Linked DNA regions of Homo sapiens: region 2 is linked to region 1. The links come from fine-mapping of genetic effects on gene expression. Tissue or cell type: iPS cells. Region 1 holds a variant in brackets; the other region holds the start of a gene. All regions are shown on one strand. Distances are between the middles of the regions.

Evidence for each region. PIP is the estimated chance that this variant, and not a neighbour inherited with it, causes the effect.
Region 2: NEIL3 starts here. The variant in region 1 is the best candidate, but not a certain one, in a credible set for the expression of NEIL3 in iPS cells (HipSci, PIP 0.58).

What each region holds. Positions count from the first base shown.
Region 1 is chr4:177,354,544-177,362,890 of GRCh38, forward strand. It overlaps NEIL3 (nei like DNA glycosylase 3), which reads left to right. Exons shown (of 10, transcript NM_018248.3): 9 at 5,960-6,134; 10 at 7,746-8,347. The coding sequence ends at 7,928. LOC105377558 (a long non-coding RNA gene) reads right to left here. Exons shown (of 3, transcript XR_007058384.1): 2 at 2,452-2,627. Among named protein-coding and RNA genes, the nearest start is that of NEIL3, 49 kb to the left of the region's middle. The variant C/T (reference allele first, on the strand shown) is at 3,740.
Region 2 is chr4:177,306,507-177,314,853 of GRCh38, forward strand. NEIL3 (nei like DNA glycosylase 3) reads left to right here and starts at 3,368. Exons shown (of 10, transcript NM_018248.3): 1 at 3,368-3,603. The coding sequence starts at 3,448. RefSeq lists a silencer at 3,249-3,368 and an enhancer at 3,449-3,538.

The DNA.
Region 1 (8,347 bases):
TATTTTTATTTTTATTTTTTTCTTTGAGGTGGCGTTTTGCTCTTGTCGCCCAGCTGGAGTGCAATGGCACAATCTTGCCTCACTGCAACAACATTCGGCTAATTTTTTTTGTATTTTTAGTAGAGATGGGGTTTCGCCATGTTGGCCAGGCTGGTCTCGAACTCCTGACCTCAGGTGATCTGCCCACCTCAGCCTTCCAAAGTGCTGGGATTACAGGCGTGAGCCACTACGCCTGGCGTTGTTCTTTAACTAAAAGTCCTAAAAAGCATACTTGCTACTTTGTATCTGAAATTCAAAAGTTGTAATTCTAACTAAGAAATACTACCAGAGCAGATATATTTTATAGGACTTCCAGCTACATGTCCAGGAGAACACCCTCATTTTTGTCACCTGTGATACAGAAATTTTAATACATAACGTCATCCTCTCTTTTCCTTAATGATTATCGGCAGCTCCTGAAACAATTTTCTGTTGACCCTCCTTCCCCCTTTATCTGGCCCTCCCAGTCCCTTTATCTGGAATTCCTAACTATGGCAACCCGATGTTATATCTCCAACACAGGACACATTTCTCCACCATTTTCTTTTCTCAGCTGCTTTCTTTTTTCCTTCAGAAAGCAGCTGACTTACATCCAGCATTTTTAAATAAGTGGAGAATTTATAACATATAAATGGAGGGTCGTCCTCCCATGTATGTCTTTTCTTGCCAATGGGAGACAGGCAGAGAAGGAGTTACAGTCATCCCTCGGTATCCTCAAGGGATTTGTTCCAGGACCCCCAGGATACCAAAATCTGCAGATGCTCAAGTCCCTGATATGAAATGGCATAGTCCTTGCATATAACCTATGCACACCTTTTCATATATTTAACTCATCTCTGCATTACTTCTTATAATACTGAATTCAATATAAAGGCTGTGTAAATAATTGTTATACTGTATATTTTGTGTAATTTTTTTATTGTTTCATTATTTTTTGTTTCCAAATATTTTCGATCCAAGGTTGGTTGAATTCATGGATTGGGAACCTACGGCTATGGAGGGATGTACTTTGGTTGGGACCTAGAGTAATCTCAGGTGGAATTCTGAGATTCACTGGCTTTTCCTCTTATTAGCTGTGCCTTTACTGATGGGTAGATGCCTTCTCTCAGCGGTGGGGTGAGGGACCATTTGGTGTAAACTCCTAGAGCAACCTGTAGGAATCCTTAAGCTTATTTCATAACAAATTCTGAGACAGTCTCTGCTCAATAGATGTGTTTACTCCAAGTTTCCTATTCCAGCTCTAAATTTACCATCAGTTAATCCTGATGATTTATCCTTGACTGGTTTTTTTAATGTCTTGTTCATAATCATTTATGATAACTGGTTTAACTTTTGTTCATATACTCACATTTGAAGTAAGCTAAGGGGGCTAAACTTTTAACTGACTGGATAAATCCACCACGTTTTCACTTTAACCCTAATTAGTGCCTCATGATAGAAGTTCATTAAGGAGTTAATTAAGAATGTTTGAGTTGGGAGGCTGTCCTGGAACAGAAAATCATTTCCAAACAGTCTTTTCTGTTCCGTGGCTTAAGTGGAAAGTAGAAGTGATCATCTTAAAATATTGTGGCATTTGTTGTACCTAGATGAAATATCTTGGCATATTTTTATTTCCTTAATGCTTTGTAGAAAATCTCAGACATTTTAACTAATGAATTAGGGATTTAAAAAAACATTAATGTAACCTTAAATTTAAATGATTTCTTCATAAGCCATTAGTAATAGGATCATATGATTAATCACAGTGCACAGCATTACTTAGGAATGCTGCAGCCTGTGTATGTATTGAATATAAGAACACCAGGACTGAGACTCCACAATCAATCAAGATCAACTAGCAGAATAAATGTCAAGTGATGAAATAAATTCACCCAGCAGCCCTTCTGCACCCAGCTACTTTACAAGGAATAAATTGCAAATTACTGTCATTTATTTCATTTTTCTCCTTGTCTGGCAGCTATAGTGTTCATCTTGTGGACAAGATGCCTAGCAGAAGCTCACAACATAATACTATTAAAGCAGGTGGTCCATTCATAATTTATAGCCAGTTTATTTTTTCTTTAATATTATATGATAATTACTTTGACTTTTGTTCTCTTAATTACTGTTCTCATTACCACACAATCCATGCAGTGTTGATGAGGCATATTTTCTGATTGGTCTTGAGATAGATGTGTATTCCATCCAGCTATTGGCTTATAAATTAGATGATTGAACCCATTTTTAAACAGTTAAGAATAATTACTAGAAACAGTTTAAGTTGTCGATCCAATTACTGTAAACACAGAGCAAAACACAGTGATGCAGTTTCAAAGAATGCATGTGTTTTAGGCTGAAATTTTTCCTGCGTTGATGCAAAGGCTCACATAGGAGGGTGAAATGACAATAACAAAATCATTAATATTTTCTCACATTTGCTGCCGTCAGGGATGTTGAAGATCTGTCTTTAATCACCAGTGCAAGTACTGACACCATGTCCTTGTCTCTTGGTTGCTTCTTGGAGTTTTCAGTCTCAGGATTTCAGAACCACCTGGGGCCGTCCAGAATGAGTCATTTCACTTTTGTTTGTTTTAATCCTCGAAATAATCCTGTATGACAAAATCTACATTCAGTGAGACCGATTAATCCAAAAAATTCAGACAGTATTTTTATTATAATGAATCGCCCTATCTATAAAATGAGTTAAACCAAGCTTGTCCAACCATAGGCTTGTGGGCTGGACGGCTTTGAATGCAGCCCAACACAAATTTGTGAACTTTCTTAAAACGTGAGTTTTTTGTGTGATTTTTTTTTTAAGTTCATCAGCTGTCACCAGGGTTACTGTATTTTATGTGTGGCCCAAGACAATTCTTCTTCTTCCACTGTGGCCCAGGGAAGCCAAGATTGGACACCCCTAAGTTAAACTGTGATAAATTGACCATGAAAAAATAATATTCACTTTAAAATTACAGATCTGTGCTTAGTAATGTCTTCCTTCTTGATGATAGTTTTTGTCTGGTCTCTGTTCAGTTTTATTTATTAATAAGTATTGAGAATCTATTATGCCTCGGGCATTGTTCTTGATTCTAATGACATGTACATGAGCAGACTATAGCCAGCAGGGCCAAATCCATCCCACCACCTGTTTGTGTAAAGCTTTATTTACATTTGTTTAGATATTATCTATGGCTGCTTTTTGTGATAACAAACTTAGACCGTAAGACCAGCAAGCCTAAAATACGTTATCTGAAAAGGTTTGCCAGCCCCGATCTGTTGTATTAATAGATCACTTATAACCCAGAATTAATATTCAAAATCATGGTCATGATCACGAAAATGAACAATTCTGTATGCTACATTTAAGTAAGAAATCTGCTATATTTTAGAAAGTTTTTATAAAACAAAGAGGAACTAAGATGTCCTCAGTTAATCAGAACATTTAATTATCCTGGATAATGTTGTCTATCATAAAATTAAGATTAGCTGTGCATATTTAGAGCCAGTGTGATACAGGTGGCATTAGTATCTTGGTTACGTTACTTCAGTGCTTCATAACTTAATGTGCATATGAATCACCTGGGAATCCTGCTAACATGCAGATTCTGATTCTGCAGGCAATCAGGAGTAGGGGTGGATATGTCTGTGTTTTCTAACAAGCTCCGGGTGATGCTGCTGCTTCTGGTCAGTGGACCACACTCTGAGTACCAAGAATAAGATCACA[C/T]GTGGCTATGTTTTTGTTGTTGTTTTTTGTTTTTTGTTTTTTTTGAGAAGGAGTCTTGTTCTGTTGCCAGGCTGGAGTGCAATGGCGCGATCTCAGCTCACTGCAACATCTGCCTCCCGGGTTCAAGGGATTCTTCTGACTCAGCCTCCCGAGTACCTGGGATTAGAGGCACCCGCCACCACGCCCAGCTAATTTTCTATTTTTAGTCGAGACGGGGTTTCACCATGTTGGCCAGGCTGGTCTTGAACTCTCGACCTCAGGTGATCCGCCCGGCTCAGCCTCCCAAAGTGCTGGGATTACAGGCGTGAGCCACCATGCCCAGCCTGTGGCTATGTTTTTAATTTAATTTTTAAGGGAAGAAATGGAGTGGAAGGCAGAAGTGAAGGCAGAGAGATGACATTTGGGCCTCTCCTTTCTACTTTAATCCTACCTTCTACCTTGGCCCTTCTCCCCAGAAAAATTTTAATACAGAATCTAAACCTCTCCCTGGATATGTGGAACCCTGGAGCTCTCTAGGTTGAAACAAGTAGGTTAGAAAATGTTCAACCGTTATCCAAAACAGCCGCCTCTAAAATAATATATAAAACTGTTTTTGTGTCCACACAATTTTTAATAAGAATGCATCATTTCATTAATTTTGTTAATATTCTTAATCTTTTCTCCTTTAATTTTAAGAGAGCATTGTTTATGAACCACTTGCTTTAATTGTGAAATCTCTTGACTTCTCTACAACTGTCCAGATATCTGGCTTCCCTTGAAGTTAAAGTTTTGGAGGAGATTGGTGAAATGGAGTTTTGGAGGGGGTTGGTGAACTGAAAGGTTGTGGAAAAGAAAAGTCCTCTGCCTCTCAGCTTTCCTATTTCTGATCTGGTATTACCCATGACTTGAAAATACAGCCACCACCCCTCTACCCTGGAAAAGTTACCATCAAAATAGTTGCTGGTGAAGTATTTAATGGTGACGATTGATTTAGCAATGCCTGCAGCTGCTCTTATTTTACAAATGGCTATTGAAGAAACCTTCAAAAACTGCCCTCAGAATGTTTGAGTTCATCCCAGCAAACATTTTCAAAGCAGTATATTTAAGCATCCTTTATATAAATGAATTTCAGTCCATTTAATCACAAATAAGAGATTGCATTCTCTGAACATTTCAATTAGATATGATGCATTGAGGCATCATAGAAACAAGTGTGTAAAAAATGCAGTTTAGGAAGCAAGGAAAAAGGGAAATCACCTTTGATTTTTAAGTTTTTTTTTAACAATTATTTAAGAATGATATTTTTGTTCTTTAGATATTTACCGAAAAGATGAGAATGGATTAACTGTTTTATCATTAAAGAGTTAAAAAAAAATAGGAATATTAAGAGGGGGACTTCTGGTTTTAATGAATGTGAACACTTTCTCTTCAACCAGTTTATTAAAAAACTAATTCTCTTAAAGGCATTATTAAAATATGCACAACACAGAAAATTTAAATAAGCTTCTTTTCAAGAAGAAAATTCTGTTTATACAGCTACAGTACAAGGCCAGCTTCTAGCCTGTGTACACTGGGTATGAGGGCAACCTCCAAATACTCTTGATCCTAATTATGGGGGAGAATAAAGCTTCCCTGCTAGCTTTACAAAATTCACATTTTTGCTCTCTGCCAGGCAGCCTGTTTCTTGCAGGAATATGATTGCGACTATTATAGTAGCCTTGATCAAAGAAAAGCATAGAAAATTGTCTTTAAAGTGGACAGCAGAGAGAGTGATTTCTATGGCCTTGTCAGAGCCATTGATGAGAGTTTGCTACCGATGAGAAAATAATTAGAGAAGATTGTGACTAGCTACTTTGGGGCCAGTGGGAATGGAGAACCTGGACTTGAGAATATTTTAGAGGAAAAAGAAGTGGCTACAGTGTGATATTGGGTAAGAAAAGAACTGAATATCACAAATGAAAAATAAAATTTGATTTACTGGATACACAGTCCAGCTGCTTTTGTTCTTTAGAAAGTTAAATTACGTGTTTTAGGTACATAGGTAACTTTGGAAATAAATTAGAATTACCTGGGAAAACAAAGAATAAAGACAGCCTTTTGCATAATGACCTAATGTTAACGAGGTCCACTTTTTGATAGAATTTCTTGGTACAAGTGAAATTCTGACATGTGGGGGTAAAGTGGTGTGAATGGTCCCTTAGCACTCCTATGCTGTACTTATTTTGTAACCTGTCATTACAGTGAACTTCAAATTAATATGACAGATGGCCCTCGTACCTTAAATCCTGACAGCCCTCGCTGCAGTAAACACAACCGCCTCTGCATTCTCCGAGTTGTGGGGAAGGATGGGGAAAACAAGGGCAGGCAGTTTTATGCCTGTCCTCTACCTAGAGAAGCACAATGTGGATTTTTTGAAGTATGTGTAAGATTTATCTAGCTTACTAAAATGTAATTAAATGCTTTGGTTATTAATGTATAACAAATAGCAATACTTTCCTAGTTTTACCTTTTACCTTTAAATTTGAAATAGCCATATTGGCATTCAGTCTAAAGCTTGAATGTTGACTAACTTAAAATTCAGATGTTCAGCCACAAGAAATTTAATAAAATAATAGCTATTACATTGTTAGAGTATATCATATTTATAATCATAAGTCTAGAAGTGTTGCACTTAGCTTGTAAAGTTAGAAAGACACTGAGTGACTAGTAGGTACTAGTAGTACATATGTGGCTAATAATCCAAGGTAAGAATTTGTTCTTCCTAACTTCAGCGCTACATCAAAACCTTTGGTTTATGCATTGGATAAAGGTTTATAAGAAAAGCAATTTACATGCCTGGGATTTACAATAACCTTATCAAATCCTACTTAACCACACTTGACCCAAAAAAGTGATGGCACCATAGCAATTTAGCTATAGGCGATTCCTCCTGCCTTTCCAGTCTGTGGATGTATCCCTAAAGATGAACCTAAGATAGGAGATAAGAACCTCAGGTCCGTTTAGTCAGTCTCACTTCCGGTATTCCTCGGTGTGAGCATCTCATCAGGCTGAGTGTGATTCTAATGTTCAGAGATACATATTTTTTCTAGTTACTCTTCATCTGGAATAGAACTGAAAAAAGAAAATATTGATATGTTTCAGTGCTGGCGCAAAGATTTTCTGGTGGACTTTTTGAAAGATCAAATATCTGTCTTCAATGTGATACCTTCTTAAGGAATTTCCCGGGGAAAACTGGATAGTGATTTTAGACCTCAATCTCTAAACACAGTGTAACTCTACCCTACAAAATTCACAGATTTCCTCCTCAAGAAGCTTTTATAGATGTAATGGGAAAATATTATTAGCAATATTCATGGTATTGCTAAAAATATAATAGCCTTTTTCATATCTCTCTTGAGGTCAAAATTAGTAAGAATAATATAATAGAATCTGTCTAATTCAGTCTGCGTAAGTATTTGATTCTTTCTTTTCCTAAGGAAGTTTAATATTAAAATCATGACAAATCTTTGATCTTACAGGGTTTTTTTTGTTGTTGTTTGATTTTTTTAGAGACAGGGTCTCCCTATGTTGCCCAGGCTGGTTTCAAACTCTTGTGCTCAAGCTATCCTCCCACCTCAGCCTCCCAAAGTGCCGGGATTAAAGGCATGAGCCACCGCACCTCACCTGATCTTACAGGTTTAACTGAAACAGACCTATAGCAGGGATATTGGTGATTACAGCAAGATTTTGATAGTTTTCAATTATTCTTAACAAAGTGAAGAAACTTCTGTAAATATACCTTTAGATAAAGGGAAGCTCAGAATTATGGCCATTTTCTGCGTGATTCAAACAAATTTGTAAGAGAGATGCTTCTTTTAGGATATAAGCTTTTTTAAAGGCGACGACTAATTACTGGTCTATTTTACAATGTCAAATTAATGATAACAGCAGTGAAGACTATATGGCACTAATCACATGTGCCTAGGGTTAGCCTGTACATCATGATAACTTTTGTATAAACTTGTAAATTTACCTTTTTTTCCTGCAGTGGGCAGATTTGTCCTTCCCATTCTGCAACCATGGCAAGCGTTCCACCATGAAAACAGTATTGAAGATTGGACCTAACAATGGAAAGAATTTTTTTGTGTGTCCTCTTGGGAAGGAAAAACAATGCAATTTTTTCCAGTGGGCAGAAAATGGGCCAGGAATAAAAATTATTCCTGGATGCTAATATCTGTAGATTCTCTGGCATTTAGTCTCTTCAAACTGTGTATAATGTTTGGTCCTCCTCTGTTTCATAGAAAAGTCATAGAATATCTATGATACATTGAAAAGTTACTGCAATATTTGAGAACTGTTCTTTTTTTTTCTTGTGTGTGCCATCTTTCCATTGTTGGCTACGTCTTTTCTTTTGCCTTGATGAACGTTCTATGTATTTCATCGGATATACAGCATATTCCATTTAGGATGTGTATTTAATGCATTTAGTAATGACGATAAAGTGTTTTTAGTATGCTTTTAGTCTCTTGTAACTGGGGAGAAGCAGTGTTTTTTTTTTAGGAAAGGATTATGCGACACAATAAAATAAGATATTCTGTCTGTAGTGAATACATTTCTCATGTACTAACACTATTTATAATATATGATTAA
Region 2 (8,347 bases), 48 kb before region 1:
TAGTCCCAGCTACTCGGGAGGCTGAGGCAGGAGAACTGCCTGAACCTAGGAGATGGAGGTTGCAGTGAGCCGAGATTGCACCACTGCACTCCAGCCTGGGTGACAGAGTGAGACTCCATGTCAAAAAAAAAAAAAAAAAAAAAAAAAAATTGGGAGAACTTCAGTAAACTGGGAAAAAGAGGAGGTATTAAAAACGTGAGAATAGGCCGGGCACGGTGGTTCATGCCTGTAATCCCACCCAGCACTTTGGGAGGTTGAGGTGGGCGGATCACCTAAGGTCAAAAGTTTGAGACAAGCCTAGCCAACATGGCAAAACCTGGTCTCTACTAAAAATACAAAAATTAGCTGGGGGTGGTGTTGGGTGCCTGTAATCCCAGCTACTCGGGAGGCTGAGGCAGGAGAATTGCTTGAACCCAGGAGGTGGGGGTTACAGTGAGCTGAGATCACGCCACTGCACTCCAGCCTGGGAGACAGAGCTAGACTCTGTCTTGGAAAAAAGAAAAGGTGAGAATAATAGCATGAGCCAAAAAACAAAAGGTACAAAATATATTCTGGGAATAAGTACAATTTATCTTAATTTCGTAGAGTATTCATAGTTTTCAAAGTGCTTTCACATAAGCTATGTTGTGTATGGAAATTAGAGCAATCATATGCAGGTGTATAGAAAAAGTATTATTTATTGTCCATATGAAGAAAGTGAGTTTTGGAAAAGATAAATGACATATATATATATGGTTATCAAATAGCACAATTTAATAGATTTAGCAAATTTACTGAAATTAGTAAATTGGACTTAAGAAGAAATTGTGAAGGTTCCTCTGGTAAGAGTGCACAAGAGAAAATTCAAGGAGGATAGCAGTTAGCAGGATCCTGACATAGTCCAGCTGAAATGTAGCAAGGGTCTGCACTAGGGTAGGCTTGCTTGCAATGTTGTGGGCTCTTTTTACAGACAATGTAGATACACAGCGTATGCGAGTTTGCTTTTGATTGGACGTAAGAAGCAAGATCAAAGAGATATACCAAAGGACTCAGAGGCTAGTCACATATAAACAAAATCTGGGCCAGGTGCAGTGGCTCATGCCTGTAATCCCAGCACTTTGGGAGGCAAGGCGGGTGGATCCCTTGAAGTCAGGAGTTCAAAACCAGTCTGGCCAACATGGTGAAACCCCGTCTTTACTAAAAATACAAAAATTAGCCAGGCGTGGTGGTAGGTGCCTGTAATCCCAGCTACATCGGAGGCTGAGGCAAGAGAATTGCTTGAACCCAGGAGGTGGAGGTTGCAGTGAGCCAAGGTCAGGCCACTGCACTCCAGCCAACAAAACAAAACAAAATCTGACTCCGCCTTTCAGTCACGCCAGTGAAATCTCTTAATGCCTTCAGTGTCAGTCCCCAACTCTTACTAATTAAAGATCGTATTTGACCCAAATGTGCACAGTACACAACACCTTAAAGAGAAATGAGGTGAATCAGATAAATGAACAGGTTGATATTTTTTAAATTTGTCCACAAGCTCTTTGATATCCCTCCTTTCAAATCACAGCTTAATTCCCCTCCCCTTGTGAATGCACTGTATTTAATGACTGGCTTCTAATGAATGGAATAAGAAGTAAGTTACCATAGTAAACTAAGTAATAAAGGGTGACTAAGTAATAAAGGGCATTGCAGCTTTCTCCTTGACTTCTCTCTTGGATCACACTCTCAGCTGCCATGTCATTAGAAGAGCCGAGCTGCACTATAGAGACACAAGAGGTGAGAAACTGAGGCCTCCTGCCAACAGCCATGCAAGTGACTCATCTCGGAAGTGGATCTTTTAGCTACAAAAAGCCTTTGGGGCACTTTAGCCTTGGCTAATATTTTAACTGTAACCTCTTGAGAAATGCTGAGCCAGGATGACTCTGGCTAGCTAGACTATTGCCAAATTCCTGACCCACAGAAACTTTGAAATAACAAATGGGATAATTGATGAGGTAACAATAAATAACTAGTACAACGCTGAAAGAGGAGAAGGTATATAGGACTTTTCTCCATCAAAGGACAGAGATTATTGAATTGAACAAGGGAGTAAAGTACAAATAGTCCTGAAATTGATCCAGCCAACTTTTGATCACTAATCTCTCCCTGCAAAGGAAAGATTTAATACTTTTCAAAATTTCAATCAAGTCTTCAGTATATTCAAATTCAACTCTCTAGTATACAGATGCTCCTCAACTTACGATGGGGTTATGTCCTGATAAACCCGTTGTAAACTGAAAATACAGTAAGTCGAAAATGCCTTTAATATATCTAACCTACCAAACATCATAGCTTCACGAGGCCCTCCTTAAATGTGTTCAGAACACTTACATTAGCCTACAGTTGGGAAAAATCACCTAACACAAAGCATATTTTATAATAAAGTGTTGAATAATTTATTGACTACTGTACTGAAAATGAAAAACAGAATGGCTATATGAGTACTCAAAGTACAGTTTCTACTGTGTGTCACTTTTGCACCATCATACAGTCAAAACACTGTTACGCTGGGGCATCCTAAGTCAGCAACCACCTGTGTATATGCTCTTGTGGTTTAACGGCAGCACAGTGCTATGCTTATGAAATCACTTAGAAATTGACATTCTGTTTTAATGTGTAGTATTTCAGTTTTCAAAAAAGAATACACTTTATAATTTACAAAACTATATGGAGTCATAAACTTCATAGATTTATATGTATGCATGCATCTTTGGTTAGGGTTGTGGGTAAATTTGAAAAGCTACGCATTACCCTCAAATTTATATAAACCTCTACGTTTAACAAAGCAATTTCATATAGCTTTCATCTTGGGGCGTCCCCTTACAAAATGGATGCATGCACTTAGGTAGGGCTCACTTAACTATCTAATAATGGAGTTTTTAAATATAGACACTAGAATATATTCTGCTGTTTGTTCCAAAAACCCTCTTCTTCGTTTCTCTTATCCCACCCACGTCCGAATATAGCATGCCAAAAACAGAGCCAAAAACAAGATTGTCTGTGACATATCTGTCCTGTCACAGACAAGGACAGATTAAGAGGACCAGATCAGAAAATGTGTGTATACTAAGTAGCTCAAAGACAAGGGCAAAACTTTAACGCAAAGAAAATACATTCAGAGCTTTCCAAGTCCCAATTTCTTCTGCTTTTACAGTTCAGCCTAGTTAGTTGTCCTCCACGCCCCCCGCCCCACGCGCGTTTGCGTTTTCTTAATAAACCCACAGCAAGACCTAGGGCGGGGGTGAACCACAGCGCATGCGCCGTAGGGAGCGACCTCAACAGCTAGGGTGCTGTTTGGGCGGGGCCTGGGCGGGGCCAGACGCGCGCGAGATTTGAATTTCCTCTGCGTGCGGTCAGTGCCCGCGCAGCGTTGAGTTGCACAGCGGTATTCTCACCAGGCCCTGCAATCGGTGGGCCACAGTGCCGGCCACAGAGATGGTGGAAGGACCAGGCTGTACTCTGAATGGAGAGAAGATTCGCGCGCGGGTGCTCCCGGGCCAGGCGGTGACCGGCGTGCGGGGAAGCGCTCTGCGGAGTCTGCAGGGCCGCGCCTTGCGGCTCGCAGCCTCCACGGTTGTGGTCTCCCCGCAGGTGAGCTACTCCTGTAACAGGCCATGCAGTCAGCAGGGGGGAAATGGAATAAAGACCCCATCAGGGTTCCAGGATTTAAAGTGTCATCTCTTTGCTCTGGCCCAGGTTTCCTGGGGTCCCACCTTTCACAGAGTTTATCGTCACTTTACTGTAGGGAGAAGTCGGTCCTAGCGCGCCTGCGCAGGAGAGGAGGGCTAGCGTTCTGGGCTCACGCTGCCGGAGCAAGATGCCCTAGGGGAATCCAGTGAAGGTGTTTTATCCGAGTCACCTTACTTAACTTCTTTATGATACACACATGGTTTCCCATGTCTACAGCTGCATTTTTTACTATTGATATTATCAAATCTCTGCTACCTCTGATATGTTTTCTTCGTCCCATTTTAAGCTTTTAGCATAAAATTCTACTTTCTTGCTTGGCTAATCTGCAATTGGTAAGTATATCACAACTAGTATATAATTCTAAAACTACACGTAGAAAATTTAGCACTAACTTCTCACTCAACTTCATATTGCCATCTAATTAAGGGGCAATGAAACCCAGTTCTGGTTCCCTTAAGTGAATTTATTTCTTTTTAAAGTAAACTAGCACAGCTTCTTGCCACTCAGGCATTCATTGCAGACGATGTGGTATTCATTTGGCCAGAACTTGTACTAAAAATATTCTGATTAAGGCATCATGTTTTAAAAGCCCTCTAGATGTATGGATGATTGTATTTCATGCCTACATGCAATATTGCACTGTATTTCAATTTCTTCTGCAAAGCTTCTTATAGCCTTTGGTCCTGGAAGAAAAAGTTGCCTGCTATGAAATTAGCATATGCTTACAACTTGAAAGAAATGAGGTTCTAAGTCTAAGAAAATATATTTTCAAACTTGGGAAAAAATAAGTTTTACATCTCCTTCCAATTGCCCTTTTGTTTATTTTGACTTGATATGCCAGTAAGTACTCTGTACCTATTTTTTTTTATTATTGTTATAGTGTTTCTAAAATCGTTTCAGGGTACCACAGAGATGGATTTTAGATGGTTTCTTAAGAATATTAATATTTATGAAAATTACTCATTCAATAAAATTTTGAATACTCAAGACACCTGGGGAGCAAAAACAAATACTTCCTCTTTTGGAGCCTATACTTCAGTTGGGAAGACACAAAGACATTCATTAAATAATCACCTAAAGAAATATAAATTAATAAGTTCTGTGAAGGAGAGATACACGATTCTTTAAGGACTTGTAGGAAGACCTGGGAAGGCTTCCCCAGGGAAGTAGCAAAGCTGAGGTGTGGGCCGGGTGCAGTGGCTCATGCCTGTAATCCCAGCACTTTGGGATGCTGAGGTGGGCAGATCGCCTGAGGTTGGGAGTTCAACACCAGCCTGACCAATATGGAGAAATTCCATCCCTACAAAAATAAAAAATTAGTCAGGCATGCTGGTGCATGCCTGTAATCCCAGCTACTCAGGAGGCTGAGGCAGGAGAATCGCTTGAATCCAGGAGGTGGAGGTTGCAGTGAGCTGAGGTCGCGTTATTGCACCCCAGCCTGGGCAACAAGAGCGAAACTCTGTCTCAAAAAAAAAAAAAAAAAAAAAGCTGAGGTGTGCAGGGTGAGTAGAAGCCATGCAGCTCAGGGATTGGAACAGGAAAAAGACTGAAAGAAAGCCAGAGTAGACACTGCCCTCTCATTTAGGAGTCGACTGCAGAAATCCAGGTGACAAATTTGGGGTCAAGTGCTGGTGGTGGAGATGAAGACAAGAGAATCACTATGATGGGAGGGCTAAGCAATGGATATGACATGAATATACTTAGGGATATCATCATTTACATCATTCAACCACAACGTATTTTGTGTTAGGTTTTATGCTAGCTCCTGCGGATACGAAGATGAGTAGGATATGCTTTCTGCTGTGAGAGTCCAACCTAATGTTTTAAATAAATATCACCTCATTGGTATTTAGGAAAAATAGCTTAAACATTTCCTTTTAAGTTTTGTTGTGATTATCTCTGATGGTATGGCATGAGATGCTTTTACATTTCATTCAGTCATGAAAAAGGATAACCCTATGATAAAGGATTAACCTGATTCTACAGATGAGGCATATGAGGCTCAGAGTGACTTTAAGTAAATTTGCCCAAGATCACATGTCTAGTAAGGGGCTAAACCAGGGTTTGATTTTTCTTTAAAACTCCAAAGCCTACCCTCTTAACCATGCCATAGCTCCTCTCAGCCATAAAAGATTCAGTAGGATCTTTATTGCTTTTTTAGCATACAACGGTAAGAACACCATAATGCTCAGTATATAGTAGTGGTTATTTATTAAATAGAAAAGTGCAATCTTGGATTTTTGGCTGTGTCTACCACCATTTTTAGTTTTGTTCGGTTGAGTCAATTCTCTTATATCTATTCTGATAATTCTCTTCTAACAGCTTCTATGGCCATGTTTGGATTGCACAAAAGAGTGCAGCCTGATAATATAATACAAATGCGTCAGTAATGGTTAGGCAATTATTAACATCACTTGGCAGCAATATTCAATAAGTTATACCCCACACATAAAAAGCCTGGCATTTAAAGGTATTATTTTTGATACCTTGATAGAAAGAGGCATTAAAAATTGGAATAGGTCTTTGTGGTTAGTATCAGGAATCTGGTTCTATGGACACTGGATTTTAAAATCAATATGGAAGGAATACATTCTTTGAGGCTGTTGGTAAATTTCTAAATAATTTACTATGGCTTCATTTTCTGGGACTTTGATCTGAAAAAAAAAACATAATTATAACCTTTTGTAAACATGAAGAGTCTTTTGCATTTTAGAGGGATCCATAGTAAATTTCATTAAAACATGGTAGGTTGTCACAAACCTCTGGCAAGATCATTACTGTAGCAGATGATCCCATGTCTCCTAGGCATTTATGCCAAAGAGTTAAAGCTATTTAAATGTTTCTGCTACTGGCTTGAAATGATTAGTTTTCACAAGGCAGCATTTAAAAATAATTTAATAACTGCATACTGCATTCTTTACAGTGCAGTAAACATGGAAAAAGTTACTAATGAGAGCTAAAGAAATATTTAATGGGCATTCAAAATAAAATATTTAAACCTCAGATAATCATACCAAAAAACAAACCAAAAAACACTACTTCAGTAGTTATTGCCATAATGGACTGTTACTGTGTCATATAGCATTCCTCTTTGTTACAGTATAAAGTTTATAGAGAACACACTTGAATGCATGTCTGCCTGTGACAACTGATCCTCATTTTGAGAAAACCTAGCCATAGAAGATCCCAGCATCTGCTAGTCATGGATGTACTATATTATTTTTCTGAGTCGTGATCCACTGTCTTGTCAGCATAAAATTGTGCAACAGTATAAGCAAATTGCATAAAACTCTGCTGGAGATTGTGGAAACTTATGGTAAGAAACAATATTGGAATATAAATGAACATATCTGGTTAATGAGCTTTGAAGAGTCAATCCTTTGATTTTAATTGTTGGGTGGATACAATATTTTAGTGAAATCATATTTAATCTGCATGTGTTTTCAATCTCACAAAACAGGATATGAAACAGTTTATAAGCATTCATTTTATTTGAAACATGGTCTGATTATTTCCATCACTCCTTAAAATTTGATACATGTATTTAATATGCCAGCTATTTATCGTTATATATGCTTCACAGTGTCAGGAACTGAGGAGACATTTAATAAAAGTTGAATGGATGGAGAAGAACAAGGTTTTGAATAGTGCAAAGTGATTAAAGATTTAGAAATAAATTCCATTTGGACTCTTTCATTATGAGAATGTGTATATTTTGTTGTGCATGTTATATGGAAATTCCTACTACCAGAATATAAACCAGGTAGTAAATTTTCCTTCTTCAAAGTGGGGGAAAAAAATCGTGGCTCATTTTATTGCCATTATTTAAAGAAATGAGCTAATCTACAGAGATTCATTTTCCAGCAAAATGAGGCTCATTTCTTTAAGCATCTGAAGGGGATTTCTAAATAATTTAGAGAACATGCATTATATACTTCCTTACCTTCTTAAATGGATACTAATAATGATTTATCCTTAATGACTCAAGATCATCATTATTGGTATCCAGAATCCTATGGAATCATGAAACAAGGGATAACAAAGAACAGAAACATTCTTACAAAGGAGGAAAAAGGGGAGGTGATTTTCCATGGCCATTGTAGCTTTTTATCCAAGATGAACATATTCGGCATGCTGCAGAGAAGAGAGCATCTGATCATCTTGATTTTGAATTCCCATTTTTTTGTTACTTCCTCGTCTGGAGATGCTTATTGTTGCATCTTAGCTTATTTGGTCAGGATTAAATTAAGCAGCATGTAAAATTCTTAGCTTAGTACCTAGCAAAATAAACATCCTGGGAATTGTTCCTTTTTCTTCTGGATCAGAGCTTTCTCACCAGACCCATTTATCTGAGGAACACCCTATTTTTATGAAGGGTTTGTAATCATTTGGTGCCTTCAGATAAGGTACAAAGTCTTTAGTCTGAGTAAGTGCTTGAAGGTCCTGCACTTAGAAAATTGTAGAATATGTTTTTGATGAATGGGCCTGAGGACCTCTATTTTGTTGTTTAGAAATCACTTTAAAATTATATTCTTTGATGACTTCGATTGGTATTTAAGAGATCTCTGATTAAAAAGTGTTGTTGTAGGCCGGGCGCGGTGGCTCACACCTGTAATTCCAGCACTTTGGGAGGCTGAGGCGGGCA